2 separate regions of the Homo sapiens genome follow, and region 1 is linked to region 2. Evidence: fine-mapped QTL for protein levels in blood plasma. A gene starts in region 2. The other region holds a variant in brackets. All regions are shown on one strand. Distances are between the middles of the regions.

Region 1 (15,839 bases), 64 kb after region 2:
ATTGTATAATAAGAATATTCCATGTATTCAAAAGAGAGAAGCCAAGGAAGAAAGAAATTTGTCACGAGTTTGGGCTCTTAGTACATCCTGTAGCTCATTGAACCAGCTTCCTGGAATGGAGGGTCTGGGATTGACACTAGGCCACATGTATAGAGTCTCTAGAGAGACAGTGTTTCATCCCCATGGCCCGTAATACATTTCCCATTTTCTCAGGCAGCCACAGGTCATGAATGTGAGGATAGAGAGAGGTTGGAGCAACGTTCTTGGGAGGCATAAGGAAGAGCAAATGCTTCAAGATCCCCGCAGCCCAAACTCCTACCTGCTTTGCCCCCTAATGCAGTGTTCCTCCGTAGCTGTCCGACCTCTTCAGATCTCTTAGTCTACCCTGCCATCTTCCTTTATGCCATGGGTCCCACTGTTCTTTCAACTCATCCCCCTTTCCCTCAGTGCAGAGTAGCTGCGGCCAGCAGAGGGTAGACTGAGAGCAGGAGAGAAGGTCCTGCCCAGGAACCCATTCTAGAGATGCTGCATTCTGCCTGGGAGCAAGTTTTCCAGGGCAGCTTTGAGAAGTCTTGCAGAAACAAACCTATTTGACCCACATGATATGGGAATGACAGAAAGTAATACAATTTGCACAGTGCTTTTCCATGGGAAAAGTAGAGCCTTTTCGCGAGGTTTTGAGTACATAGAGAGTGAAGGTTGACCTGGAAAGGTTATCCTCCTGGATCCCATGTTTTTTCTGAAGAACTACCTGTTAGTTGCAACTTGCACATTAGAATATGAAGTCCTACCGAGAGAGATACGGAGAACTAGATAAATACAGATACTTTTGTATGTGAATAAACGATTCCACAATACACACATCAAAATCCATACCAGTTATTCCAGAGAGATGGATTGGGCAGAAGGCAGAAGGAGAATACTCTGATCGTTTTTTGCCCACGTGTATGTATTATCTCAGTGTTTCTAAGAAGCGTTTGCTACTTTAGATTTTTTTTTATAATAATAATCTTTTAAGTATGAGAAATGTGCAGACAGGATTAGTGATTGAGAGCCATTTGTGCTTGTGGCAATCATATGGTACTTTTATGGGAATATTAGAAAGGCACTGGTAATGACCTTGTTGCAGCACAAAGGAGAGGGTGTGGGGTGCCCCTGCATATTGTCCCACCTCTTGTGACGTGTATCGTTTTGGAATTTCCAGTGGCTTGATCATGAACTACTGCAGGAATCCAGATCCTGTGGCAGCCCCTTATTGTTATACGAGGGATCCCAGTGTCAGGTGGGAGTACTGCAACCTGACACAATGCTCAGACGCAGAAGGGACTGCCGTCGCGCCTCCAACTATTACCCCGATTCCAAGCCTAGAGGCTCCTTCTGAACAAGGTAAGGAGCCTGTGGCCAGAAACCTACACGTTTCGATGCTGGGATGAAAAGCCATGGAAATTCCCACTGATGCAGCAGCCTCCAATGGTAAACGGATGCTCGAGTGTTGACTGAGTTCTGTCATGTAGGAGGAAGCCTCCGTGCACTCTCTGGGGGAGCCAGCGGATTGATTTCTGGTACAACGTTGGGTGGGCTGTGTCTTTAGAATTGGCACAAACCCTCCAGGGTGATCGACTTCACAACTCACCTCGTTGAAAAATGGGCTATCTCAGTGTCTTAGCCAAAATTTTTATTGTAACATGCTGTCAGATGTGTGACTCTTTCCAAGCCAGTAAGCTTTTCCTGGGACTTCTTCAATTAGCCAGCATTCAGTGCAATCTTCAGCATTGCAGATTCAGAGAAATGTGGCTCTGGAGCCTGTCACCCTTGAGAAACAGGGCTAACAGGGTTGCATTAATTCCAAATCACCCTGGTTCTATGGAGCAGTACATGAACTCCCAATGATCTATGTTTCAGGACTTCCTCAGTCATAGGTGGGCTCTGCAGCCCTAGGTTTTTAAGTGAGTGACTGCCCCGTGTTCTGGTGGCAGTTGTACCTGTGAGCGGTCTGGATAGAAAGAGTCGGAGACTTCTGTATTATTGCAACTCAGGATGTGGGTCATGAGAGGATTTCATCTCTCCTGCAGGGGAGTAAGCTGTTCGCCTCCACCCATCCCTGATAACTGAAGTGTCTTTGTCTGCAGTCCTAGACGAAGGACTGTTGTCTCTCCCATGGCCCAGAAGCTGAAGACCTTGCCTTTTGTTATGAAACGTTCATTGTTTTCATGTCTGTCCGTTTCTCTGCCCCTAACACCCAATCACCATGTATGGCCTGTACCCCCAAATGCATCGTGCTTTGCTGTTTGCTGCCCCATAGTCCTCATGAACATTCAGTAGAAATTCCCATAAATGTGCTTGCACGTGAGCACAGTTTCCATTGAGAAGCCCTCTCATTTGTCCTTTTTTTCTAAGCTTTTATGTGAAATATTTCTAAGAACTTACTACAGTTCTAAAGTGTTAGGAATTTGTTTCTTTGGTGTTTTTGTTTGTTGGTTGGTTGTTGCTTTTCTCAAGTCCATCTGCCTACAAATAAAGAAACAAGAATGTTACTTGTCATATTCTCCTGAGGTCATAATTCTCAGAGACTTTTTTCTGGTTTGTGCCATAAGTGGCTTCACATGTTTGTCTCTTCTTGGAAACACTCAGTTTGATTTCTTTTCTTTTCATTTCAGCACCAACTGAGCAAAGGCCTGGGGTGCAGGAGTGCTACCACGGAAATGGACAGAGTTATCAAGGCACATACTTCATTACTGTCACAGGAAGAACCTGCCAAGCTTGGTCATCTATGACACCACACTCGCATAGTCGGACCCCAGCATACTACCCAAATGCGTATGTCTATTTTCTTTACCATAAGTGAAGGAAGGGTCAGTGGAAATTTCTGTTAGTAGAGTCATGCTTCAAGCTGAGTGTTCAGGACTCAAGTTGTCTCAGATGAACAGTGCATAGCAAAATGTCTCAGGAACATTGTCTTTGAGCAAAGAGTCTAAGAGAAGACAAATGTTAATCTGGCTCTCCTTCCTCCTAGTTTAATGGAGCAGAAAGGTATCTGGAGGCAAGGATATCACATTAAGAAACAAGTCAAGATGACAAATGATGAAACTCTTAGAGTACCCTTCCACAACACCCACTAAGGTTCAATGCAGCCTTTTCTCCTTGGAATTCTATTAAACTAAACTCCAATTCCTGAAGTGAAGGTTCTGTTGGGGTTTTCTGTTTTGGCTTACAAGGAAAGTATATATGTATATCTATGGAGAGGCAAATCTATCTCTTTCTATATCTACGTCTATTCCAATATGTAGAAACACAGTCGGTTCTGACCACCAGTGGTCTGAAGGGATACTGGTTGTTAGAGAATAAAAATGGCAGGAAGGCAGATGAGAGTCAGCAAAGAGAGAGATCCTGTAAAGTAAAAGGGTGGATAGATGGACAGAAGCCCAGGTCTGACCAGCCCATGGCCAGGCTTTAGGCCATAAGTGACACCAAAGACATGGAAAAATGGTTTCTACATGTTGGACAACAGACAGTAGTGGACCAAAAGAATAGTGACAGGGGGAACAATGAGATCAACTCCATAGATACCTTGGCTTTCTTCCTGGAGGCCCTTCTTGCACTGAAGAGCAAGGTGATGGAGCCCAGATGGACTGTAGCCATCTTCCTGAATGCAGGAGAGAGATTGGAATTTGGGACTACTGTGGTAGCTAGGATTTTATAGGCCTGCTGAGAATGAGAATGGATTTGTGGATGAAAGGAGCTCCAGGGGCACGCATAGTAGTCTCCTCGAATCTTTGGCTAAACATGACGTTGCATGTGCCCAGAAAAAGGTTCCACAAGAAAGTAGAGAAAAGAATATATCCTGAGGAATAGCAACTGCGATTGAACAGTGAGCTCAATAAAGAGGACAGAGCCCTCATAGCATTCTGGGATACTGGAGTTCTGACCAGCTGGAGGAGAGACCTCACTGAACCTCTTGGGAATACAGTAGAGACTCCAGAAAAGTCATACTTTAGGAGTAGAATTAGTAAATTTCTAGAAAAAAAGGCAGCTCTAGACAAACCCTGGCAAAACTGAAAAGCAAGTCTCCAAGCATTAAAATCATTTCCAAGTCAATTAACTGCCTGGGAGAGGAAAACCCTCTTTAGAGGTAAACAACAAAGTCAAGTGGCTCAGCTATGTGGTGTTCACAGTGTGAGTTCTAAATTTAAAACTTGACTACACATAGAGAAGCTTTTAGTATGAACCATGACCAGGTGAAAAATCAGTCAATACAAATAGACCTAGAAATGACAGAAATGATTAGAATGGCAAAAAATTTGACATATCAATATGTCAACTGAGTTTTAGGTTTTAAGAAAACATGAATACGGAATGAAGCAGATACCATATCAAGAGACAGTAACAGTATAGAAGAGCCAAATTAAATTAAAGAACTAGTATAAGAAGGTATGTCTTAAATGAAAAAATTACTGGATGTATTCCCAATGGAGTGAGATGTTTCAGAAGTAAAAACTAACTGAAAAACAATTTTATACCACCTACAGAACCAGCTACACATACACAAATGACACACACATATACACACATACTCACACATGCACAGGCTTAGAAACATGCACGCACACACACACACACACACACACACACCTCCACAAATACTAAAAAATGAAATCCACTGATCCTCACAGACAGGCGGGAAAATATAAAAAGATTTCCTGCATGTGGGTAGGAAGTCACAGAAGGAGAGGAAGGAGAGATTGCTACAGGAACAAATACTGGAAGCAAGGATAGCTAAAAACTTTTCAAATAAGAAGAATATTAAAAACCACAGATTCAAGAAGCTGAATGAATCAGACAGGGAATTTCCAAAAAAAAAAAAAAAAAAACTGTATGATTCACTTTTGTACATCACCGTTCAACAGTCAGAAGGCAAAGATATAATAACAAGAAACATCTCATGAGAAACTGGAGGAAAAAGAGCTGTGTCTTGCTAGAAGAACAGTGATACAAATTGCTAATGCATTCTCATCAGAAACACTGGAACCCAGTTAACAGGGGATATCATTAAAATGATAAACTAGAAAAAAAAGAGATCAAATGAGAATGCTACATCCAGCAATAAAATGCCTTGAAGATCATCCATGTTGGATAAATGCATATTGTGCACTGCCCCAAATAAATAAACCAAAAACTAATAATTTGGAATCAGCAGGCTTGTGTAACAAGAGATGTTGCCCAAAGAAAATTAGCTAGAAGAAGAATAGTTCAAGAGGAGAACTTTCTGCAGCCCACGTAATGAAGAACCCAGCAAATGGCAAATGTAGATGTAAATGCAAAATATTTTCTTGATCAAATTTCTATATCTTTTTAAATGAGAGTTGACTACTTGAAGCAAAATGATAGCAATATATTTAACTTTAGCATATGTAGAGGTAAAAATTTGAACATATAGACTAAATCATGTGGGGAATAATTGGAAGTGTACCATTGTAAGTTTCTTACCTTATCCACGATGGTATGTAATATTAATGAAAGGTTGAATTTGTGGGTCCAAAGGGATATTGTAAATCCTAAAGCAATCATAAAATTTTGAATTCTGAGGGATATTATATAATAAGAATTTTCCATGTATCCAAAAGAGGGAAGCCAAGGAAGAAAAAGAAGTCTTTCAAGTACTCAAGCTCTGAGCACATCCAGTTGCTCATTGAACCAGCTTCCTGGAATGGAGGGTCTGGGCTTGAGACTAGGTCACATGTGTAGAGTCTCTAGAGAGACAGTGTTGGATCCCCATGGCCCATAATACATTTCCCGTTTTCCCAGGCAGCCACAGGTCACGAATGGGAGGATTCTGAGAGGTTGGAGCAATGTTCTTAGGAGGCATAAGGAGGAGTGAATGCTCTGAGATTTCCCCAGCCTGAGGTCCTCCATAGCTGCCCGACCTCTTCAGACCTCATAGTCTGCCCAGCTGTCTCCCTTTATGCCATGAGTGCCACTGTTCTTTCAACTCATCCCCCATTCCCTCAGTCCCGGAATTGCTGTGGCCAGCAGAGGATGGACTGAGAGCAGGAGAGGAAGTCCTGACCAGGAACCCATCCTAGAGATACTGCATCCTGCCTGAAAGCTAGGTTTCCAGGGCAGCTTTGAGAAGTCTTGCAGAAAGAAACCCACTTGACCCACCTGATACGGTATCGACAGACAGGAATACTTTTTGTGCAATGGTTTTACATGCTGAACATAGAGCCTTTTGGCTACATTTTGAGTACATTGAATGAGACTGCTGGCCTGGGAAGGATATCATGCTGGATGCCATTTTTTTCTCTGGAGAACTATGTGTTAGTTCCAACTCGCACATTACTATATGAAGTCCTACACAGAGAGATACGGAGAGCTAGACAGATAGAGATACTTTTGTATGTGCATAACCAATTCCACAATACACACGTCAAAATCCATACCAGTTATTCCAGAGAGATGGATTGGGCAGAAGGCAGAAGGAGGATATTCTGATCCCTTTTTGGCCACATGTATGTATAATCTCAGTGTTTCTAGGAAGTGTGTGCTGCATTAGATTTTTTTTCTTTAAAAAAAGTGATAATATATTAAGTATGAGAAATGTGCAGAGAGGATTAGAGATTGAGAGCCATTTGTCATTGTGGCAATTGTATGGTATCTCTTTTGGGAATATTTCAAAGGCACCAGTAATGACCTTGTTGTAGCAAAATATACAGTGTTCCTGCATATGTACCCATTTTTTGTGATGTGTATTCTTTTGGAATTTCCAGTGGCTTGATCAAGAACTACTGCCGAAATCCAGATCCTGTGGCAGCCCCTTGGTGTTATACAACAGATCCCAGTGTCAGGTGGGAGTACTGCAACCTGACACGATGCTCAGATGCAGAATGGACTGCCTTCGTCCCTCCGAATGTTATTCTGGCTCCAAGCCTAGAGGCTTTTTTTGAACAAGGTAAGAAGTTGTGCCAGACATTTACCTGCTTGGATGCTGGGATGAAAAGCCATGGATACCCCCACTGACGCACAACCCTTCAGTGCTACACTGGTTCTCGTGTGTTGGTTCTGGGTCTGCCATGTGGGAGGAAGCCTTAGCGCACTCTCTGGGGGAGCCAGAGGTGTGATTTTTGGTGCAACCTGTGCGAGCTGTGTCTTTAGGATGGGCGGAAACCATTCTGGGTGCTCGACTTCACCACTCCCCTCATTGTAAAAGGGGCTATCTCATTGTCCTAGACAAAATTCTTATTGTAATATG[C/G]TGTCAGATGTGTGTGTCTTTCCAAGCCAGTAAACTTTTCCAGGGATTTCTTCAAGTAGACAGCATTCAGTGCAATCTTCAGCATTGCAGATTCCGAGAAATGTGGCTCTAGATCCTGTTATCCTTGAGAAACCTAACTGGGTTGCATTAATTCCATATCTCCCTGGGTCTGTGGAGTAGTACATGAGCTCCCGAAGCTCTATCTCTCAGGTCTTTTTCAGTCCGAGGCAGGTTGTGCAGTTCTTAGCTTTGAAGGGAGTGATTTTTTCGTGTGCTTTTGCCTCTTTCTGATGGAACTTGTACCTGCGGGGGGTCTGGAGAAAAAGAGTAGTAGACTTTTGCTTTATTGCAATGCATTATGCTGGGCACGAGAGGATTCCCTATCTTATTGTAGGTGATAAGCTTTTGGCCTCCACTCATCCCTGAGAAGTGAAGTGTTGTTGCCTACAGTTTTAGCTGCAGGACTGTTGTCTGCCCCATCACCAGGAGTTTAATGCTTTCTTTTTTGAGCAATCATCTAGGGACACATGCAAGGTTTTTATATGTCCTTGCCTCCTCCCCAAAAAACCATTTTAATGCTTGGAGACTTGCTTTTCAGCTTTGCCAAATGCATCACCCTTTCTTCTATGCTGTTCCATGTCGTCATGAACACTCTGTAGAGATTCCTAGAAATGAGCTTCCATGTTAGTGGAGTTTCCGATGAGAAGCAATCTGATATTTCTTTTCCACTAAGTTTTACATGAAATATTTCTAAGAACTTACTACAGTTCTAGAATGGTAGGCATCTCTTACTTTCGTGTTTGTTTGTGTGTTTTCTCATGTCCATTTGCCTATTAATAAAGAATAGAGAATGGTTGTAAATCTCAGTGACTCTTTTTTGGTTTATGTCATAAATGGCTTCCTGTATTTTTCTGTTCTAGGAAATAATAAGCTTGATGTCTTCTGTTTTAATTTCAGCACTGACTGAGGAAACCCCCGGGGTACAGGACTGCTACTACCATTATGGACAGAGTTACCGAGGCACATACTCCACCACTGTCACAGGAAGAACTTGCCAAGCTTGGTCATCTATGACACCACACCAGCATAGTCGGACCCCAGAAAACTACCCAAATGCGTACGTCTTTGTTCTTTACCATAAGCGAAGGAAGGGCCAATGGAAGTTTCTGTTAGAAGAGTCATGCTTCAAGGTGACTGCTCAGGACTCAACTTGGCTCAGATGCAGAGGAACATTTCCTGTGAGCAAAAGTTCTTAGAGAAGACTTTGTTTTTTTGAGACAGAGTCTTGCTTTGTTGCCCAGGCTGGAGTGCAGTGGCATGATCTCGGCTCACTGCAAGCTCCGCCTCCCGGGTTCACACCATTCTCCTGCTTCAGCCTCTCTAGCAGCTGGGACTACAGGCACCCACCACCACACCCGGCTAATTTTTTGTATTTTTAGTAGAGACAGGGTTTCACTGTTCTAGCCAGGATGGTCTTGGTCTCCTGACCTCGTGATCCGCCTGCCTCAGCCTCCCAAAGTGCTGGGATTACAGGCGTGAGCCACCGTGCCTGGCTGAGAAGACATTTTTTAAGCTGGCTCTCCTTCCTCCTAGTTTTATGGAAGCAGAAGGATATATGGAGTTGAGAAGATCTTATTAATAAAACAGCCGGGATGACAAATGACCAAAGAGTTAGAGTATCCTTCTACAACATCGGCTGAGGGTTAATACAACCTTTTCACCTTGGAATTCTATCATTCTAAGCTCTAGTCCCTGAAGTGAATGTTGTGTTGGCCTTTTGCATCTTGGGTCACAGGGAATTGATACTTGCACATCTATGGAGAGGCAAATCTTTTTCTATCTACTTCTTTTTCAATGGGTACAAACACACTTGGTCCTGAGCACCAGTGGTCTGAAGAGATACGGTCTGCCCAGAGGAGAAGAACAAAGGCAGGAAAGCAGATGAGAGTCAGCAAAGGGGCGATGCTGAAAAGTAAAAGGGGCGGGTAGATGGACAGAAGCCATGATCTGGCCATTCTATGGCCAGTCTTTCGGCCATAAGTGACTACCAAAGACACGGCAAAACGGTTTCCACATGTTGAACAACAGATGCTAGAGGACCAAGAGTATTGCAAGAGGGAGAAAATGAGATCAACCCATCAATGCCTTGGCTTTCTTCAAGGAGACCCTTCCTGCACTGAAGAGCAAGGAGATGGAGCCCAAGCTGACTGTAGCCATGTTGCTGAACAGAGGAGAGTGATTGGACTTTGGGATTACTCAGGTAGTTAGGATTTTCTAGCCATGCTAAGAGTAAGAATGGACTTGTGGAGGATAGGAGCTCCAGGCATAGAAGTCTCCTCAAGTGTTAGTCTAAACATAAAGCAGCACTTGCATAGAAGATTTTCCACAAGAAAATATGGCAAAAAAACACCATATATTGAGGAACAACAACTACAAGGGAACAGTGAGCTTAATAAAGGTGACAGAGCTCACATAGTGCTCTGGAATATTGGAGTTTTGACCAGCTAGAGAGAAGAGACCTCATTGAAAATCTTGGGCATTCAGTAGAGACCTCAGAAAAGTCAGACTTTATGAGTAGACTTTGTATATTCCTAGAATAAAGGCAGCTCCAGAAAAAACCTAGCAAAGCTGAAAAGCAAATCTCCAAGCATTAAAATGGTGTCCTAGTCAATTAACTGCCTTCTAGAAGAAAACTCAACACTCTTTACAGGTGAACAACAAAGTTAAGTTGCTGAGCTATGCAATATCCACAGTGTGAGTCCTAAATTTATAACTTTACTACACATAAAAAAGCATTTAGTGTGAACCATAACCAGGAAAATAATCAGTCAATAAAAATAGAACCAGGAATGATAGAAATGATTTAAATGGCATGAGAATTTGACATATTAGTATCATAACTGCATTGCTGGATTTAAGAAAACATAAACATGGAACGTAACAGATATCATATCAAGGGAAAGTAAAAGGATAAAAGAGTCAAATCAAATTAAAGGACTATTAAAAGGTATATCTTAAATGAAAAATTCACTGGATGGTCTCCCAATCAGGTTAGTTGTTTCCAGGGAAAAAATTAACTGAAAAATAATTCAATAGAATCTACAGAAATAGCTGCACATATATACACACAATGGCACACGTGCACACACCCACACCCACACAGGTGTGAATCCTAGAGCCACACGAGCATTGAAACATAGAGAAGTAAAAATTGTTCATTGAGGAATATGTAGCAATGCTCAATGTGTTTTACCCTAATAAGAGCTTTTGTGATGTATGATTGAAAAACTGACACAACTGAAGAGAGAAATAGATAAGCCCACACTCTGAGTTAGAGATTTCCTTGATTCTCTCACTATGGTTATAAATCTTTCCCAAACACAACAGGCTAGAACAAATATGCAGAAAATTAGACATAGTATCTTTGTTCTCAATAAAAACGTCGACCTATTTAACATTATACCGAACTACCGAGTACACATTAAAGTGTGCATGGAGCATTCACTGAGGTGTACTCTACACATGACCTTCCAGCAAGTCTCCATAGATTTAAAAGAATTAAAGTCATACAGAGTGTGTCACTTTATTCTCCCAGAATAAAGTGAGATATGAATAATGAGAAGTTTGCCAGCTTCTCAAATATTTGGGAGTCATACGGTGCATTTCAAAATACTCTTTGGGACAAAGAAAACATCACTAAGGAATTTAGAAAAGTTTTGAACTGAGTAAGAATATAACACAATTTATCCAAACTTAGGAGATGCAGTGAATGTCTTTAGGCTTTTACATAATTTTAGATGCTCTTAGGGAAAAACAGAAGCATGTAATAATCAAGATTTCAAACTGCAATTCTCAAAGTGTAGTCTAGAGAAACCTGAGGACCTTTGAGTACCTTCAGAGACAGTCCATGAGGTTAAAGGACTTTGCTACGTGAAAAGTAAGATGCTATTGGCCCTTTTTACTTTCATTTTCCAACAAGAGAAGAGGGGAGTTTTCCAGCAGTTACATAATATGTAATGGCATCATGTCTCTGATGGCTAAGAAAATGGGCAATTGTTGACTTTGTGTGTTAAAAAAATTCTCAGTGTTGGTTTCTTATACTATAAATATTCATCTTGTGTTTTGAAAAAGAAAAGCTCTTTGGAATCCCCTATGAACAAAGACTTTGACAGTTGTTGATCTAAGACCACAGCTTAAATATCTACACAAGAAAAAAAAAAAAAGCAAATAAGAGCCAAGGAAAGCAGATGGAAGGAAGTAGTCCAAACCAGTGACATTCAGTGAACAAGAAAAGAGACCAACAAGGGAGTAAACTCTTGAAACAGAAAGTTGATTCTTTGAAAAGATCCATATGATTGAACACAGTCTGGCTAAACAAATGACAGACCAATGAGGGTGCACAACCATCACCATCTGGAGTAACAGAGGAGAGGTGCCATTACTATAGCATCTTCCAGTTCTGAAAGCTGAAAAGAAGATTTTGAGAACAATTGTATGTGAATAAATTCAGGAATGTTAATCATGTGGGCCAATTCCTGAGGAAGACAACAAATCAGCAAACCAGATGCTGAATAGTTAGTGTAGTCCTGTAGAGAGACATACAGAGAGGCTGACAGAGAAATATTTGTATGTGCATAAAACAATCTACAAGACACACTTCAAAATCAATCTCAGTTAATCTGGAGGAACATATTTCACAGAAGGTGGAAGGAGGGTATTCTGATCCTCTTGTACATTGTACAACATTGTACAATGTACAGAGTATAATTGTACAAGTACAATTGAAGTTGTACAAGTACAAGTGCAACTTGCACAATGTACAGAGTAAACATTGATGTTTACTCTCAATTTTCTTATGGAGCACAGATGACTTTGGATGTGTTACAATATGAATGATAATTTGTCTTTGAGATGTTCGCAGTTGTTTAGAAGTTGAGGACCATTTGTGCATATTATGGGACCTTTAGTGAAAATATTTCAAAGTCTCTTTTTACACTTTGTTACAGCAAAATGTAGAGGGCGCTAAGTGCCCTTGAATCTTCTCCCATCTCTGGTGACCTGTGTTGTTTTGAAATTTGCAGTGGCCTGACCAGGAACTACTGCAGGAATCCAGATGCTGAGATTCGCCCTTGGTGTTACACCATGGATCCCAGTGTCAGGTGGGAGTACTGCAACCTGACACAATGCCTGGTGACAGAATCAAGTGTCCTTGCAACTCTCACGGTGGTCCCAGATCCAAGCACAGAGGCTTCTTCTGAAGAAGGTAGGAAGTCTATGGCCAGACAACCACACCCTAGGACGTTGGGATGAAAAGAGTTGCAAAATCTTAGTGATATAGAAGCCTTCCATGCTCACACAATTCCAAGTAGAATGTGGACTCAGGGTCAGCCACTGGGAAGGAACACTCAGCGCCTTCTCTGGGAGAACCAGAGCTGTGATGTTTGGTACCCTGTGAAAGGGTGGTATCTATAGGAAGGGTGCAGACCCTCTAGGGCACTGGACTTACCACTCCCCTGGTTATTCAAAGGATCATTTTAGTGTCTTAGCCAGAAGAATATTCTAACATTTTGCCAAATTTGTGAAGATTTACCAAGCTCATGATAAGCCTTTCATGGTATTTCTTCAAGTAGTCAGTGTTCATTGCATCTTTGGCTTTGCGGTTTCGGAGGAATGCGGTTTTTGAGTCTGTCATCCTTGAGAAACCTAATATGACTTTTCTTAGTTCCATATACTTCTGGGTCCAGGTAGCAGTACATAGCCAACAAATGCTCCATCGTTCTGGCCTATCTCCATCTTAAGCCAGTCCTGCACAACTAGGCTTTGATGGGAGGGATCTCTCAGTGTTCTTGCCCCTCCTTCTCATGGAACATATATCTGTGTTGGTCTCTGAGAAGAAGAGTAGTGGATATCTACTTTGTTGCAATGCAGAATCCTGGGCCAAAGATACCAGCCATCCCTCCAAGGGAATAAAATTTTGGCCAGTAGCCCTCTCTGAGAGACAATTTGTCTTTGCCTACGAGTCCTAGATGCAGGACCGCTTCCTGCCCCATCTTCAAGAAGCTGAAGGCTTTGGCTTTGGAGGATCAGCAGTCTAGGGAAATGTGTGACGGTTTCATGTCTGTCCCCACTGACAGTCAATCACCACCTACAACCTGCACAGCCTGATGCATAGCAGTCTAGTTTCCTGCCTTATTCTCAGGAACACCCAGAAGATGTCTATATTAAAGAGCATGCACATGAGTGCAATTTTGACTGATAGGCACTCTGATCTTTCCTTTGGTGCCTGTGTTTTAAAGGAAATCTTTCTAAGAACTCGTTAAAGTTCTAGAATGCTATGAATCTTTGGGTTTTATTATTGGTATGTCCATCTGCCTGCTAGTACAGAACAGAGCATGGTAGTCTTTCTCAGAGACAATGATCCTGTTTCAGTCACAGATTTCTTCTGATGCTTCTGTGTTCTAGAAATTACTCAGCTTGATTTCTCCTCTTTGAATTTCAGCACCAACGGAGCAAAGCCCCGGGGTCCAGGATTGCTACCATGGTGATGGACAGAGTTATCGAGGCTCATTCTCTACCACTGTCACAGGAAGGACATGTCAGTCTTGGTCCTCTATGACACCACACTGGCATCAGAGGACAACAGAATATTATCCAAATGGGTACAACCTTGAGTTTTCTTCAAAGACAGACAGCAGCCCCCTTACATTTCTCTTGGAAGGGCCATGCTTCCAACTAACTTCTTATGACAAATTTATCTCAGATCTGGAATGTTGGGTAGAATGTCTCAGGCTTCTTTCTTCAGGCACAGTGTCTGAAAGGAGAGAAATGTCAGGCCAGCTCTCTTTTCTCATAGTTGACAGAAGCAGGAGGATATTTGAAGGTGGTGAGTTCTCATGAATAGAAAGCTCAGGACACATGGCCACGTGCTTAGAAATAGCACCATTCCACAATGCCCACTAAAGACCAATGCAATAGTTCAACCAGGGATTTCTGTCATTCTAATCTCCAAGTCCTGAAGTGAAGGTTGTATTAGCCATGTTCATCTTGGGCAACAAATAAAGGATATCTATGTTGACATCCAGATCTTCCAATCACTTTCTCCTCTAACCTGTACCTGGGTTCTGAGAACAAGGTATCTGAAGAGCTATGTGTTGCCAGCACATGAGGGGCAAAAGTAGGAAGGCAGCTGAGAGTCAGGAAGTATAAAGATTCTGAAGAGTTACACATGCAGGAAGATGGACAGAAACCCAGTTCAGACCACGTCAGCGTTTCTGCCATGAAGGACTATCAAATACATAGGAAAAGTGTTTTCATAGGTTGGACAACAGACATGACAGGCCTGAGAAAATTCAGAAAGGGAATCAAAGGAGATCAACCTTATCATGTCCCTGGCATCCTTCCTTGAGACCCTTGAAGGGCAAGCAGATGGAGCCCAGCTGACCACAGCAGTCTTGCTTAACTGAGGAGAGAGACTGGAGTTTGTGATGCCTCAGGCATCTGACGTATTCTAGGCTGGCTAAGAATGAGAGGGGATTTGTGGAGGAAAGGAGCTCCAAGAATACACACCGAAGTCTTCTCAAGGCTTTGGCTAAATACAAAGCTGCGTATGCACAAGGAGAGTTTTCACAAAGAAAGAACAATAAAGAAAAGCTACTGGGGAAAGAACAACTGCAAGGGAACAGTGAGCTCAATGGAGATGCTAGAGCTCACATAGCACTGGGGGATATTTGAGTTCTGACCACTCAGAGGAGAGACACCTCACTGAACATCTTGGGCATTCAGTAGAGGTCAAAGAAAGCCATAATTTGGGAGTAGGATCTTCGGATTCCTAGAAATAAGGTGACTCCAGAAACACTCCAGCAACCCTTCTTCCAAGCCAGTCTAAAAGGATCCAAATGATTTCCAAGTAAATTAACTGCCTTCCAGAAAAAAGTAAACTCAACCCTCCTTAGAGGTAAGGAACGAATACAAGTTTCTCAGTTATATGACATCCCCAGAGTGCAACTTGCATTTAAAAATTTACTAGACACAAAAGAAGTTTTCACTGTGATCCATAACTGGGAGAAAAATCACTCAACACAAATAGGCCCAGAAATAATAGAAATTATGGCATTGGCAAGAACATTTAAAATGCACCTCTGAGAACTGTGTTTCAGGAAAATGTCAGCAAAAGCTGACCATGAGAGAAATGAATGCATAATATCAGAAAAGAAAAGAATTGAAGAGCCAAATGGAAATTTAAAAACTGAGAAAAGTTATATCTGTAATGAGGAATTCACTGGATGGCCTTATAACCAGTTTAGATATTATGGTAGGAAAAGGTGAACGAGAAAATGATTCAATTAAAGCTAGACAAACCACAAGACAGACAGACAGACACAAATACACATACACACAATGACTGAACCAATTAATCAACAGAGCCTCAAGGACATCTAGGAAAACATCCACACATTTAATATATGTGTTAGGCAAGTCACAGAAAGAGAGGAAAAAGATAATGTGACAGAAGTTATACTTGAAGCCATGACGGCTGACAAATTTCCAAACATACAGAAAATGAGAAATTCATAGTCATGAAGCTCAATGACTC
Region 2 (15,839 bases):
TGTTAAGAACCCTTGTTGGAAAACTGGTGCAGTTGTTTGGAGGACATATGACCTTCTGGCCATTTGATTTATTGGAGTTCTTACGTTGGTTCTTTCTCATGTCTCTGTGTGGGTGTTTCTTTAACTGCAGTGTAGATTGAGTACAGCCAATAGACTTCTTCTTTGGAGGTTTTCACAGGGCCAAGGCCTTGTACAGGGTCTTTATTTGTAGCTGACTTCTTGTCTTTGGTTTCATAGTGGGGCATGTTAGCAAAATAGTTTTGCTGTTGAAGTTTTGGGGTGTGATCCATTTTTTATTTTAATGATTGTGTATTTCCTTTATACCTAAAACAAGCAGAAAACCAGTAAAGGTCTTTGAGTCTCTGAATTCATAACTCCAGCATTCATATTGCTTCCTCAGGTAAGTGGGGTTTTCACCCAGCCCTTAAGGGTGTTAGATTATTTTTTATGTGAAATTAGCCAGATTGTATTTCTAAACATGATGTAAAACAATAATGACAAAAGTTATAATAAACTAGCCTTCTTACCAAATCCACATGTCTAATGTGTGTGGGAGGGTGTTAGGCAGGGGACCTGCAGCTAAGGGAGAGGCAGACAGGCCCCATGGCCCCAAATCTAGGATAGTATTTGGTATTGGTTGATGGGTGAGAGAAAGAGAGGGAACATCTGTGCAGGATGTGGTATCAGCACCTGGACTACATCTTAGGGATTCCTTCTTCATTTTTCAGTATGCCCTGACAATAATTATATCTATCAGACTTACCCCCTTGACCACTGGAACACTAAGACTGTTTTGGGATCTCTGCCTGACTTTCTCAGAGGTGCTGGTGAGGACATTATGAGTCTGGAACCTAGAAAAGCGTTCTGACTCTGCTGACTTTCTCAGAGGTGCTGGTGAGGACATTATGAGTCTGGAGCCCTAGAAAAGCGTTCTGACTCTGCCACTAGCCAGACAGACCTGGACTAGGCACGTTAACTCTTTGTATGACTTGACTCCAACCCCTCATTTGTAAAACCAGCATTTTCAAGTGGTGTTTTCCACATCAGCCTTTTGCATAAGCTGTCATTTGAAGAAAGGTTTTTGTTTGTTTGTTTTTTGTTTAACAAAAAGGTTAAAAACCACTGGTCTAGATAATTGCAAAGTTTGCTTTCCTTTTTCTGTGCTTTTTCTACTATTTTTAAAATGTCATCCTCCTTGGTTTCTTGATCCCCCTTTCTGCACTCCTGAGTCTGGGAACACTGAGGCCAACTAAAAGGAAACTTGGCAAAAGAGGAACACCTTTGGGTGTGCCAGGCTGCTCCCAGTGTTTTGCACTTATAAAAATTTAAATGCTGCAAACCTCTAAGACTTAGATATTATTGTTCCTATTTTACAAGTGAGGAACCTGAGGCTCAGAGAAGGTGCAGGATGGCACAGGGAGACCTGAATTGGAACCCTGGTTCCCACTTACTGGCTGTCGGGACTTAGAAAAGTCATGAACTCTCATTGATTGTTTTCTTATATGAAATGGGGGCTGCAGGGTTGTCGGGGGAGAAACAATAAGAATGTGCATCAAGTGTCGAGCACGTGCTACGCACTCCATCATGGCAGCTCCTACTAATATACAGAATAGAGTTGTATCTAACATGACTCTTTCTTGCAAGTGACAGAAAATCCAACTTAAGATGGATTAAGCAAAAAAGGGGAATTCTTGTTGAGCTGAAAAGTCTTTAGGCTCACATGATGGCCCCAGGGCCCAGGCCCTGTCCAGCCATGCAGTAGGCATCATCCTTGGGCACAAAGGTGAGATTCTTGTGGTGGCAGATGCTGTGGCAGCTCTTGCTTTGCCAGGAAAGACTGAGGAAGGCCACTGTCCCCATTAAGTGAACAATAGTTGGCCAGGTCTGAGAGGTTGAACTTGGGTCACAGGCCTGTCCCTGAACCCATCACTGATTGGCTCCAACCTGCATCAGCTATTACATGCTAGAGGTGGAGGCAGGACCCCACTCATACCCAGAAGGGCAAAGGGTGGATCCCTCAACAGGATTATGGGATGTAGGGTGATAGACTGCTGGGCAGCCAGAAAGCAAACAGATCCTCTCCAATACCTCAACTGATGAAAGCACCAAGCTAAAATCATAAGGATCTGGGTGTGAATTCTGGCTCTACCATCTTCCATGTGACATTGGGCAGTTATTTAATCTCTTTTAGCCTTGGCTTTCTTACCTGTACTAACATATAAGGTGATTGTGATGAGCATCATCATCGTCAACATCATCATCACCATCCACATTGCCACCACCACTCCCATTATCATCTTCATCAACATCATCACCACCGCCACCATCACCATTATCATTACCACCACCGCTATCACTATTATCATCACCCTCAACATCATCACCATCATCACTATCATCACCACCACCATCATCGTTACTACCACTACCACCACCATCATCACCACAGCCACCACCACCATCACCATCATTACTACTCAGCACCACCATCATCATTCCACCACCATCACCATCATTCCACCATCACCATTATCATTACCACCACCACTGTCACTATTATCATCACCCTCAACATCATCACCACCACCATCATCATTACTACCACCACCACCACCATCACCATCATCATCATTCTACCACCATCACCATTATCATCACCATCACCATCACCACCGCTATCATCATGATAATCATTATCATTACCACCACCATTAGCATTATCATTACCACCACCATCACTATCACTATCACCATCACCACGACCACTACCACCATCACCAACACCATCATTACTACCCACCACCACCATCATCATCATTCCACCACCATCACAATTATTACCACCACCACCATCACCACCACCACCACCATCACTATCATCATCAGTAGACATCATATAACCAGTTTGTAGCTGGCCCAGAGCCTACTTGCTGTTTCTTCTGCCCCACAACCATCCACACATTTCTAACCACCATCCCCCACTAGGCTTCTGCCTCGCCTGGTCTCACCTGCAGGTCCACTGAGAAAATGATTCTCAGAACACTAACTAGACCATGAGGTGCCACAAAACATAACTCAGGCCTGTTCATCAATTTTCTACATGTCAATAATGACATCAGGTCAATTGGCGTTCTCAGCCTCTGAGAGGGAGGTCAAAGTTTTCCTGCTCTCCCCTTCATGTTTCCAGGTGTTCCCTGACTTGGATCAAATGCAGAGTTTGGAGGTGTTGAGGCCAAGGGGATTTTCCAGGTCAGTCGTCATCCACAATCAATGGACTGATCCTGCCGCTGGACTTACCCTGCTGCCCTCTCCCCAAGGCCCCATCAGGGAGGGCTTCAATCCTCTTGTCACCTGTGGCCTACCTGCCCTCAGAGATGACATCTCTATGTCGGCCACTGGATGGCAGCACCTACTCGCAGACCACATCAACTTTCCTGGCAACTTGCGGTAGGTTTTCACCATTATCAGGATGTTTGCCTTGCTCAAATAGCAGATTCTAGAGAACGGTGCTCCCTCACACAACTATGTAGTCCAGGTGATGCACCCTCTGCCCGATGCTTGGTAGTCAGAAACTTCCATCATGCAGCTCTGCCCAGATTGAGCTGAGCTGGCCTCTGGAGTGAGGTGCTGGGACAAACATCTTCCATGCTGCTCATGTCAACTCCAGATGCAGTCAGGTTTCTGAACCAAAGTCAATGATCTAAGTGCAGTCAAAGGCTCTGGGGGAAGAAAGAGAGAGTGCCTCATCTCTTGCCTGTGCCATGCTCGCAAAGCAAGGATTTTTGCAAAATTCTAATGAAAGCTGGGCTTGCAAAATTAGAAAACTGGATTATTTGTGAGAACACTGAAACATCCCTGGGTGTGTCCATCTGGAAAAACAGCATTTCCTCTGGCAATTTTGCAACCGTTCTATTTGAATTTGGCAAAGAAAATAAAGCAGTTTTTCACAAAAGAATAAACACAACCAGGAGAATCTTCACTCTCCCAAATTGTCAAAGAAGTATAAATTAGAAAATGAATCAGGACAATTTCAACCTGTTAGATTAGCTAATATTTAAAAATTGAACACTCATACAAGTGTGGTGAAGTGATTGTTTTCTAGTGACATTTTACACTGTCATAACCTTCTAGAAAATAAATTGGCAGTGTTATTGGGAGACAGAAATATGTCTATATAATTTATGGGAACTTAGGCTCAGAAAATATTAAGGAATAAGAATGAACTTTATGAACAAAGATGTGGAGGGTTGGAAGCAAGAGGGGGGCCAACGCGCACGGGGAGGAAGCATTTGGGCAGTGACTCCGCAGACCCAGGCTCAGGTTGAACTAGACAACCTCCTTACACCTCAGTTTCCTTAACTGTAGAGCAGGAGTGATGGAACTGCCTGTTTCATAGGACTGTTGTGAGGATGAAGTGAGATACACCACATTATAAGCTTGTGCCTGGAAAGGATAATGCTTAGTAAATGATGACTATTCTTTTTTATTGCAATAAAATGTACACAGCGTAAGAGTTACTATTTTAACCATTTTTGCAGGGTACCACCAAGTGGCATTTAGTACATTCACAGTGGTGTGCAACCATCATCATATTTCCAGAATATTTTCCTCATCCCCAAAGGAAACCTCATGCTCATTAATCAGTAGCTCTCCTTTAAAATATTAGTTATGAAGATCATAGCACTATACAAAACTCATTATGTAATGTTGAGTGAAAAAATCAGGGTGTGAAATTTTGTGATATGATGTAATTAGTGAAAGAAGCATACAAAAAGTCTGAAAATATAAAAACAATAGCAATTGCATTTCTCAGACTCTACATTTAAACATTATTCTTTATGGTTTTAAAAGCAAAGAAAAAGGTAAAGAAACAACAACCAACCGCAAAGCACCATGACAAAGCTCAGATTGTTAAATCCAGGTTTTTGGAACATAGACTCTTATATGACGTTTACACTCTCCAGGGTTCAGAGAGTCTGGCAGCATTGGGAGCTGCCTTGTGTTCTACAGCCTCACGGACAGACAGGAGGTCCATCACCACTGCTCTGTTCTTCTGGAGTTTCCTTGTGAACATGTTGTGGACGTAGTTACCATTTCTTTCATCTTTTTAAACACAGGTACCTTTGGGGCTGGCTTTCTCAAGGAAGCCCAGCTCCCTGTGATTGAGAATGAAGTGTGCAATCGCTATGAGTTTCTGAATGGAAGAGTCAAATCCACTGAGCTCTGTGCTGGGCATTTGGCTGGAGGCATTGACAGTTGCAAGGTAAGAAAAGATCAAGAGACCAAAGTTAGTCTTGTGCTCTCCTGTCTCAGTCTCAGTCCCTTAGACTTGAGTCCCAAAGTAGCGAATTCAAGTAGGATTTAATCAATGGAAGACCCCAGTCTAAGTGTTGCTCAGAAACTCCCTAGATCTGTCCCAAATGTATATTCAGATCATCCAAGGGGACTTCTTGGGGCTTGAGTTCCAGATCAGCAGCAAGGGAGCCATAAGTGCCATAACTACCTCAGACCACTCACCCTCCTGGGGTGTCCCGGTGGCCAGGGACTAAAGTGGTGATTTTTCTGGTAGGGAAGGAGGTAGAGGGTACAGGACAGAGACTAACTGCACACAATATCTGAGACTGGAGCTCAGATATTGCTGATGATCAGAGTTGGCGTGTCTCCCCAATTGATTTACAACTGGGGCTTGGATACTGTTTTAAACGGGAGGAGCCTCCTAACCATCTTGACACAACCACTGACGTGACTACACTAGAGATAGACTCTTTCCACTTAATTCTACCACTCTTGCTTTACTTCATGAGAACGAAAATGTAAGATTGCACCATGAATTCATTTGCGGAAAGATTGATACTATGCTTTTATTTTATTTTATTTTATTTTATTTTATTTTATTTTATTTTATTGAGACTCTCACCCCGGTTGAAGTGCACTGACGTGATTTTGGCTCACTGCAACTTCCACCTCCTGGGTTCAAGTGAATACTCCAGCCTCCCTAGTAGCTGGGATTACAGGTGCCCACCACCACGCCTGGCTAATTTTTGTATTTTTAGTAGAGATGGGGTTTCACCACATTGGCCTGGCTGGTCTCAAACTCCTGACCTTGTGATCCACCTGTCTTGGCCTCCCAAAGTGCTGGGATTACAGAGTTGAGCCACCGCACTCGACCCTATGTTTTATTTTTAAAAATATTTATTTATTTATTTAAGCCACAACTACTAGAATAGGAAGGATTGATATTTTATTAATTTTATTTGGTATTTATTATTTTTTTTTCTTTCCTGAGACATTCTTGCTCTGTCACCCAGGCTGGAGTGCAGTGGCACATTCTTGGCTCACTGCAACCTCCATCTCCTGTGTTCAAGCAATTCTAGTGCCTCAGCCTACTTAGTAGCTGGGATGACTGGCATGTGCCTCCACACCCAGCTAATTTTTGTATTTTTTGTAGAGACAGGGTTTTGGCATGTTGCCCAGGCTTGTCTCAAACTCCTGGCCTCAGGTGATCCATCTGCCGTGGCCTCCCAAAATGCTGGGATTATAGGCATGAGCCACCACCCCCTCCTGGAAGGATTGATATCTTATAACATAATTTATAATTACAGAAAACATGTGAGTTCACTAGGAATAAATAAATTTTGAAGATAATAAAAGATTTTCACTTATGTTGTCATTTCGGCACAGTTTGGTATAGGATGTGGAGATGTTAACATTTATACCTAGCTTGCTCGTAAACTAAGACCTGAAAGGGTTGTGTCTATCAGCTGCACCCCTGGGTAGCGACACAACCTCGGGAAGGCCTCAGCCCCCTCCTCGTACAGCACTGCCTGTTGGAAAGCTTGAGGGAGGCTATGGATGTGCAGCACTTGGCAGAGGGTCTGGTCATGGAAGTTACCAGCAAATATGAGCTACTTTTATGATTTTATTTTATCCAAAAGAAAGAGAATGAAAGAAGAGGGGAGGAAACAAGACTAATCAGGAAAGATGAAGGTCTAGGGGTGAGGGAAGGAGTAAGGAGACATAAAGGCAATGTGGAGCAGCTGAGGGGGGAAATGGCTTTCACCACTTCCCAGCATCTATTGACATTGCACTCTCAAATATTTTATAAGACTCTATATTCAAGGTAATGTTTGAACCCTGCTGAGCCAGTGGCATGGGTCTCTGAGAGAATCATTAACTTAATTTGACTATCTGGTTTGTGGGTGCGTTTACTCTCATGTAAGTCAACAATGTCCTGGGATTGGGACACACTTTCTGGGCACTGCTGGCCAGTCCCAAAATGGAACATAAGGAAGTGGTTCTTCTACTTCTTTTATTTCTGAAATCAGGTAAGACATAGTTTTTTTAAATTATAAGAATTATTTTTTCTCCCACAATGTAGTAAAAATACATATGCCATGGCTTTATGTGCAATTCATTTAATTTTTGATTCATGAAATTCCCAGTTCAAAATCTTGTATATGATTGAAAAATTCTTAAAAAAATAAGTTTAATTTCCCCGTGAAGACTGTCACGGTGCTGGAATGAATGGGCAGAAAAAATAATGGTTGATTTTTCTAATCTAAAAGAGTGTGCCTACATGATGGCCAGTCTGGCTGAAAAATAAATAGCCATTGTAGCTAACTATGCAAAGGATGGCTAAGCTCTTCGCTTGGTTCTCAGTTTCATTAATTTATATCATCTCTGTTCAGGTGCCATGCTCCCCTCACTAGCAAGTTGAAACAATGAAATAACTCTTTGAATATGTTTGGTTCCTTGACCTGTTCATGGAGTGGGACTCAGCATTTCTCTCTTTGTTATGGCCTGAGTAAGGCTTTCCATCGGTATACATTTGCTTCTTATCCCTGGAGAAATTATACACATCCATTTGCCAGATGATATACGCATATAATGATTCAACAAATACTCAGGGTATTTGTTGAGTGGGTTAGGTCCCCACATTTTTATACATACATACACACATACACACCGTGTGTGATTGTGAATGTAAGTGTGTGTCCTTTACAAATACTAGCTTATTTAGCTCATGGTATAGGTAGGGTAGCATAGTCATCCCCATTTTATAAACAAAGAAATCTAGACTTAGGAAAATCATGTTATTTGTCTCGTGACCAAATTCCCAAATCAAGGAAATAAAGAAACCTGGATTTAAGCCAGATTTCCAAGAAAAAATCTAGGGCTCTTCTCACTTTTTCATCTTTGTTCCAACATTTGAAAAAATAAATCTAAACACATTCCAATGTAACTGAAGAGCAGGTTAATTGTTTGCCACTTGCAGAATCCAATTAAGAAGAGAGAAGTCTGGTATAAAGAAAGTGATTTGCTTCCAAAGCTAGCTTAGGGGAAGAAATGCAGCAGTCCTGCCGTACTACTTCACTTTAGGAGCAGAAAGTGGCACTTTTAAAAGGCAACAGAGGAGGCGAGCAAGGATTCAGGGGTCCATGCTAGCTTGGGCACCTTATCCACCAGGTAGTTGAGCAGTTGCCTGCTGGTGCCTTTGTGAGCAGGGTGTTGTCCCTTGAGGCAAATCTCTGGAGGGTGAGAGTTTTGTAGTGGGCATGCTTTGGTTTATAAATCACCTGTGAACTCAGGAGTTCCATCTTGAAGCACATACATAGTTAGATGAACTTGCCCTGCAGGGAGAGTCTGATGAAAGGGAGGTAGATGCTTGCAATTTAATCTATAAATTACCAGATAAAATTTTACAAGTTGACTTTAAAGTCAAACACATTTGAATTTAGTGGAAGCCATTCAAGAAAATATCAAAGAAAATACAGAGCAGGAGAAGATTAAGCAAAGAGTTTTTTGGGGAAATTGGTGTCTATGTCTGTGTGTGTAGGGAGTGCAGGGGATATGAATATTCTATTTCAGCCCATGGAAACTAGGATGTAGATCACTGTGAACTTATTCAGCAGGCTACACCCAAAGGCTAGAACAAACTTCTCTGCCACAGGATTAACATATGTTTTAATCGACCTGGGGGGCACATTCTCTGATAAGCTCTTTTGGAAAGCCAGGCTTTCTGTGGACGTGTTATCTTTCCAATGTGTGCTGGAATGCCCGGGGAGAGGAAAAAGTTTCTTTTACAGCCATGCTCAGTGAGAAGCGGAGAAACATCTTCTATTCACAAATTGCTAAGTCTTTTACACATGCAAATATGCATACACATTCACACACCACAGTGAGGAAGAAATTCTCACACCATTAATAAAATACATTTACTTCAGTAGCAATATACATCTACATTTTGCCTATAATATAAAAGTATTTTTCCTATTAAAAGATTTGTTTAATGTTTCTTCACCAACAAATAAACCCTATTAAATCCCCATTGCCATATGAGCCCTGGAGGTGAATCAGAGAAACAAAAGGATTGTGGAAAAATCATCAGGTTAAAAAAAGAAAAATTGATTCTGTTTTGGGATATTTCCTAGCAACATGAGCTGGGGAGGGGATCTCAGCAGTGATGCTCTATGAAGCATAATAAAATGACACAGTTACAGGTAACTTAGTTAAAGGGGGAAATAAATGGAAGTTTCCTCTTTTTGAATATCAATTGTAGCCTGCTCTGCTACATTTCAAAAACACTCTTCAAAATGTTTAACTGAACTCACTGTAGGAAGCACCTTATTAATTTATTGTGTGTTTTGAAGTCACACTGTGAGCTATAGAATTTACCCAAGCACAACTCTTCCTGGAAAAGAGAGTTCAAATGAGAAACAGTGCGGGGTGAAGACATGGATATGGGCCTAAAATATCTATTTCTCAATGATATTTTGATATATCTATCAAGTGCTTTTTAGTGGATTAGGTTCAGAATGCATCAGCCAATGCCTGTTCAATAATCCAGTTTTCCAGCATAGAGCATATTAAATTGAGGAAGGACAAAGTCACAGAGGTGGGGAGCAGGTGGACTGTGGCCAAGGACTTTGCATGAAACAGTGAGCGTGCATCCTCCTCCTTGCCCTGCCCTCATGGTCTGTGTACTCTCAGGAGGTCAGGACAGGCCTTTCTGAGAATGAGAATCTGTTCATCTGCCTTTCTACTGGATACTTGTCATCGGCATACAAACACATGTTCTCTGCAGTGTGTCATCTTTCAGAACCTCCCCTGACCCTGTATTCCCTAGAAGTCTCGCTGCTTTCAGAGCCAGGCTTCTCTCCTGCTGCCACCCCCACTGCTCTTCTAGTCACTCTTTAACCCACTCCATCTGCATGTGGCCCCCACCACACCCCTCAAAGTGGTCAAGGTTGTCCTGTTGCTTAATTCCATGGAAGCTTGGCTATCTTCATTTTATTAGCCTCTTTTGGCCTCTCACCCTGTGAAAATCACTACATTTTGTGCCAGAGATGGAGCTGGCATCTCCAGGCTTGGAAGAGGGCTGCTGAAGCTCAGCCAGGTGTCCTAAGGAGCCTCAGGACAGGGGATGCTCAGTAGCCTTGCAATGGGAACACAGCTGAGCCCCACTTGGCCACCCTTTGCCACAACCAGGCAGAAAGCAGCTTTTGAACAGATTTGTTGCCTCAGATTTGATCTCAAAGAAAAATCGTGGGCAGTATTGGTCCCAGGTTCTGCTTTTTTACAATTTCCTCTGAAATCTGGATGCCTATCAACACCTTGGAAAAACTGAATTCTCCCCAACTAATAGTGGTGTGTCACTGTAGTAAGCCTAGTACAAAAATGGCCTTCTTTGTGGAGGAGCTTCATATCCTCCATTTTTTTTTTGCTTAATTTTTGCCCAAGATGAGAACATAATTTAGTTCACTTTTTATTTATTCCCAACATCATCCATGCACCAACATTTTTGTAACTAAAGGAGGGACCATTCAGAAGATGCTTATCAACTGTCAAAGTGACAGTGTTACAACCAATGCACATATTGTAAGAAATCAAACAATGGCCTCCAAGGTTCATTTCTACACAGGGATTAGCAGATCAACATCAATCTTGGCAACACAGTTGCCACTGATGGTGTCTTATTTTTTTTATCATGACATGGCAATCAAGAGCAAACATGATTTATTCTTATTTAAGATTTTATGGTTAGACTAGGCAGATAGCTAGATATGAGCAGGAGGTGGAAGCCCCTGAGAGAATGGAGGTCTGGAGAATCTGAAACCCCAGAGATTACCCAAGTCCTGCATGCTAGACATGAGTGGAGGAGGGGGAATACCTAGGTAGAAAAGAATGCCCCTTAAGATGCCCAGCAGTCGCTCACTGTGCAGTTAACTTTTCAGAATGCTGCTAGATACATGCTGATAGGGAGGGAAGAGGGCAAAGGAGAAATTCCTAAGAGATACACGGTTGCAGTTAGTATACATCTGAGTGCTATACAACCTTCTTTGGGTGGTGGCAAGAAGCAATGCAGCCATTACGTAGAATTCATATCAAACACCTGTATCACAGGTGTTAAAGAAACAAGAAACATTGTACTTCTTGTATTCTTAATAATGATTTGCAATATTGTCTTTAGTATCACTGCAAACCTCTATAAATATGATTTTTAAAAAGTATTTCTTTAGGTTGGAATTACTTCTACGCATTGACTTATCTTCCTGGGTTTCATTAGCCGTACCCGTTGTACTTTCTTCCTTACCACTGTTTATCTCAAACTCTTGAGATTAAAGTATGGGCTCAGGAGGGAGCGAGGAGCTTCAGGACTCTCACGGACCTCCAGCACAGTGTAGCTGCCTTATGGAAAAGTGGCCACACTGTTTTCTGCACTGGTCCCTGCCCCTACTATTCCTCACTGGGCAGAGCACAGCCACCCTGGCCCTGCCTGAACATTTTAGTCAGTGTTGGCTCTGTGCTTCTCTGGGGAGGAAATCCAAGAGACAACCCACAGCCCCTCTGCCATTTCAGCTGCAGCAGTACCACCGTTAATGCCCTTGGGCTTGAGAAAGAAGGGACCTGGCCACTTCCCTGACACCTCCAGCACACAGCAGGGAAAGAATTCCAGTTTCTCTTTCTTGTGAGCTTTCACCTGCTACTCTTCACCAGGCAAGGCTCCTGGCTTGGGCCCACAGTGCAGGCACCTCGAACTCAGTTGAACATTTCCACTGGCTGCACTCTGTGTTTTTGTGGGGTGAAGCTCCCAGAGGTGACTGAAAGTCCTTCTGCCACTAACACTGCAGTCATACTGCCCTTGCTGTACTTGGACTAGGGAAGGAAAAAAGATCCTGAGTGCTTTACTCACACCCCAGTGTGCCCCAGCCACCCTATGGAAAAGAGGCCAGTGTGTCATCCCTGCAAGCACCCTGAGGCCCCTGCCCCTGCTGCCCCCAAGCTGTAGAGCCAGAATATAAAGCTGGCAGAAAAATGTAAAAAGGCTAGACTGGCTTAGCCTCCCAGCCTACATCTTTCTCCTGTGCTGGATCCTTCCTGCTCTTGAACATCGGACTCCAAGTTCTTCAGCTGTGGGACTTGGACTGTCTTCCTTGCTCCTCAGATTGCAGGTGGCCTATTATGGGACCTTGTAATCTTGTGAGTTAATACCACTTAATAAGCTCCCCTTTGTGTGAGTATATCTATATCTATAGATAGATATAGGTATACTCACTATATATACACATATATACATATACTCTCTCTCTCTCTCTCTCATATATATATATATATAATCTCCTATTAGTTCTGTCCCTCTAGAGAACCCCGACTAATACAGATTTTCATACCAGAAGTGGTTCTTGAGGAACAGAATATTAAGGATGGAATTCTTTCATTGGTTTTGGGACTTCTGGTGTTGGCTGATTAATATGATTAGACCAAAAAATGCTAAGGACTCTACTTCTAATAGTATGGAGAACACTGATAGTACTTGGCCTGAATTGTTTAGAGAGTTATGCAAAATAAATGCATTTGACACTACTGATTCATCACTTATGAGAGGCAAGGAGTTTAGTGACTCTATACATAATACCTTTGACTATATGTGGAGAACCAAGGAACATAATGAAGTTGGTTGATTGCTCCTAAGTTCTCTGGAGAAAGAGATGAAAGAAAATGATGATCTCAGGGGATCTGTCTCCCACCTTCAGAAGCAGATACTGAGCCACAAATCTGCTAAGATTGCCCTGAATGAGAGTTTTAACTCCTGTAGAGAAAGAGTTGAAATTGTGAAAAAACAGAGACAAGCTGTTATCATGCGAGTAGCTGATCTGCAACAAGAGGTGCATGCACAGCCTTGCCAGGTGTTTACTGTTAAAGTGAGGGCATTGACTGGAAAAAAATGGGACCCTGGAACTTGGAGTGGGGATGTGTGGGAGAACCCTGATGAAGCTGAGGACACTGAGTTTGTGAACTCTGATGAAACTTTTTTGCCAGAAGAAACAGTTTCCCCATCCCCAGTAGTGGTAACATCCCCTCCCTGACCCGTGCTGCCATTAGCCTTTCCACCTTTGTCTGAGGATGTAAACCCTGCACTGCTTGAGGCAACAGTGATGGCCTTCCCTGAGGCAGCTGCCAGGCAAGATAATGTTGATTCTCCTCAAGAGGCACCCCTAATGCCCCTGAATGCTTCTAGACCTATAACTAGGCTAAATTCCTTGCGGGCCCCAGAGGTGAGGTTCAGAGTGTGACCCATGAGGAGGTGCATTATACTCTAAAAGAACTGCTTAAGCTTTCTAATTTATATTGGCAGAAATCTGGAGAACAGGCATGGGAATGGATATTAAGGGTAAGGGATAATGGTGGAAGGGACATAGAGTTGGATCAAGCTGAATTTATTGGTTTGGCCCTACTAAGTAGGGATTCTGCATTTAATGTTGCAGCTCGGGGACTTAGAAAAGGTTCTGATAGGGCCGGGAGCAGTGGCTCACGCCTGTAATCCCAGCACCTTGGGAGGCGGGGGCGGGCAGATCACGAGATCAGGAGATTGAGACAATTCTGGCTAAAATGGTGAAACCCCATCTCTGCTAAAAATACAAAAATTAGCTGGGCATGGTGATGCGTAACTGTAATCTCATCTACTTGGGAGGCTGAGGCAAGAGAACTGCTTGAACCTGTGAGGCAGAGATTGCAGTGAGCCAAGATCGCCCCACTGCATTCCAGCCTGGTAACAGAGCAAGACTCCATTTCCAAAAAAAAAAAAAAAAAAGTTATAATAGTTTATTTGCTTGGTTAGCTGAAATATGGATTAAAAGATGGTCCAATGTTAGTGAGCTGGAAATGCCTTGGTTTAATGTAGAGGAAGTGATCCAAAGGCTTAGGGAGATTAGGATGGTGGAGTGGATTAGTCACTTTAGACCTACTCATCCCAGCTGGGAGGGTCCAGAAGATACACCCTTGGCCGAAGCTTTGTGAAATAGATTTGTGAGAGCAGCACCTGTATTTTTGAAGAGCCCGTAATTGCTCTTCTCTGTATGTCAGATCTAACAGTAGGAACCACAGTCACTCAACTACAAAATTTAAATACAATGGGAATAATTGGATCCTGAGGTGGCAGGGGCCAAGTGTTGGCACTGAACCATCAAAGGCAAGGTGGGCATAACTACCATAATAGACAGCAGAGGCAAAGCAGCCATCAGAATAGTCTGACTCATGTAGAGCTCTGGCATTGGCTAATTAATCATGGTGTTCCTAGAAGTGAAATTGATGGGAAACCTACTGTATTCCTACTTGATTTATATAAACAAAAAACTGCCAGGTAGAATGGACTAAAGACTAATCTGAATTATAAAAACAGAGAATCATGGGCCCTCAATCAATTTCCAGACTCGAACCTGTTACAGTTCCAGAACCCACTGAATGAAGGGGAGGCTGGATCCCCTTGAGGAAGGACACCACTAGGCTACTGACAACTTATGCTGTTACTCTTTCTCCCATCCTTCCCTAAGGAGACCTCTGGCCTTTTACCAGGGTAACTGTGTGTACTGGAGAAAGGGAAGTAATGAGACATTTCAGAAAGTACTGGACACTGGCTCTGAGCTGACGTTGATTCCAGGGTACCCAAAACGTTATTGTGGTTCCCCAGTTAAAGTAGGGGCTTATGGAGGTTAGGTAATTAATGGAGTTTTAGCTCATTTCTGACTTACAGTGGTTCCAGTGGGTCCCTGGACTTATCCTCTGGTCATTTTCCCAGTGCCAAAATGCATAATTTGTATAGACATACTTATTAGCTGGCAGAAATGCCACATTGGCTCCCTGACTGGTAGGATGAGGGCTATTATGGTGGGAAAGGCCAAACAGAAGCCATTAGAGCTGTCTCTACCTAGAAAAATAAAAAAATCAAAAACAATATCCCATCCCTGGAGGGACTGAAGTGATTAGTGTCACCATCAAGGACTTGAAAGACGCAGGGGTGGTGATTCCCACCACATCCCTGTTCAACTCTCCCATTTGACCTGTGCAGAGGACAGATGGATCTTGGAAAATGATGGTGGATTATTTTAAGCTTAACCAAGTGGTGACTCCAATTGCAGCTGCTCTACCAGTTGTGGTTTTGTTGCTTGAGCAAATTAACACATCTCCTGGTGCCTGGTATGCAGCCATTGGCTTGGCAAGTGGCTTTTTCTCCATTCCTGTCCATAAGACCCACCAGAAGCAATTTGCCTTCAGCTGACAAGGCCAGCATTATACCTTTACCACCCTACCTCAGGGGTGTATCAACTCTCCAGCTTTGTGTCATAATCTTATTTGGAGAGACCTTGCTCGCTTTTCACTTCCACGAGATATAACACTGGTCCATTACATTCATGACATTATGATGATTGGATACAGTGAGCAAGAAGTAGCAAACACACTGAACTTATTGGTGAGACATTTGTATGCCAGAGGATGGGAAATAAATCCAGCTAAAATTTAGGGACTTTCTACCTCGGTAAAATTTCTAGGGTTCCAGTGGC

Alleles and levels. Alleles are on the strand shown, and positions count from the first base shown. The strength of an association depends on the size of the effect and on how common the allele is.
For the plasma level of the protein whose gene starts at base 7,216 in region 2, allele C in region 1 goes with a higher level than allele G (moderate association).

What was found. A credible set is the group of variants that fine-mapping cannot tell apart. PIP is the posterior inclusion probability: the model's chance that the variant is causal. Protein levels are from antibody-based Olink assays in UK Biobank. Linkage for the fine-mapping came from a reference panel and not from the study's own genotypes, which makes the PIPs less certain.
Region 1: its variant is the best candidate, but not a certain one, in a credible set for the plasma level of the LPA protein (UK Biobank, PIP 0.78).

Annotation. Positions count from the first base shown.
Region 1 is chr6:160,592,024-160,607,862 of GRCh38, reverse strand. LPA (lipoprotein(a)) reads left to right here. Exons shown (of 39, transcript NM_005577.4): 17 at 1,205-1,386; 18 at 2,658-2,817; 19 at 6,765-6,946; 20 at 8,204-8,363; 21 at 12,328-12,509; 22 at 13,746-13,905. Among named protein-coding and RNA genes, the nearest start is that of LPA, 64 kb to the left of the region's middle. RefSeq lists an enhancer at 1,704-2,903. The variant C/G (reference allele first, on the strand shown) is at 7,247.
Region 2 is chr6:160,655,652-160,671,490 of GRCh38, reverse strand. LPA (lipoprotein(a)) reads left to right here and starts at 7,216. Exons shown (of 39, transcript NM_005577.4): 1 at 7,216-7,325. The coding sequence starts at 7,277.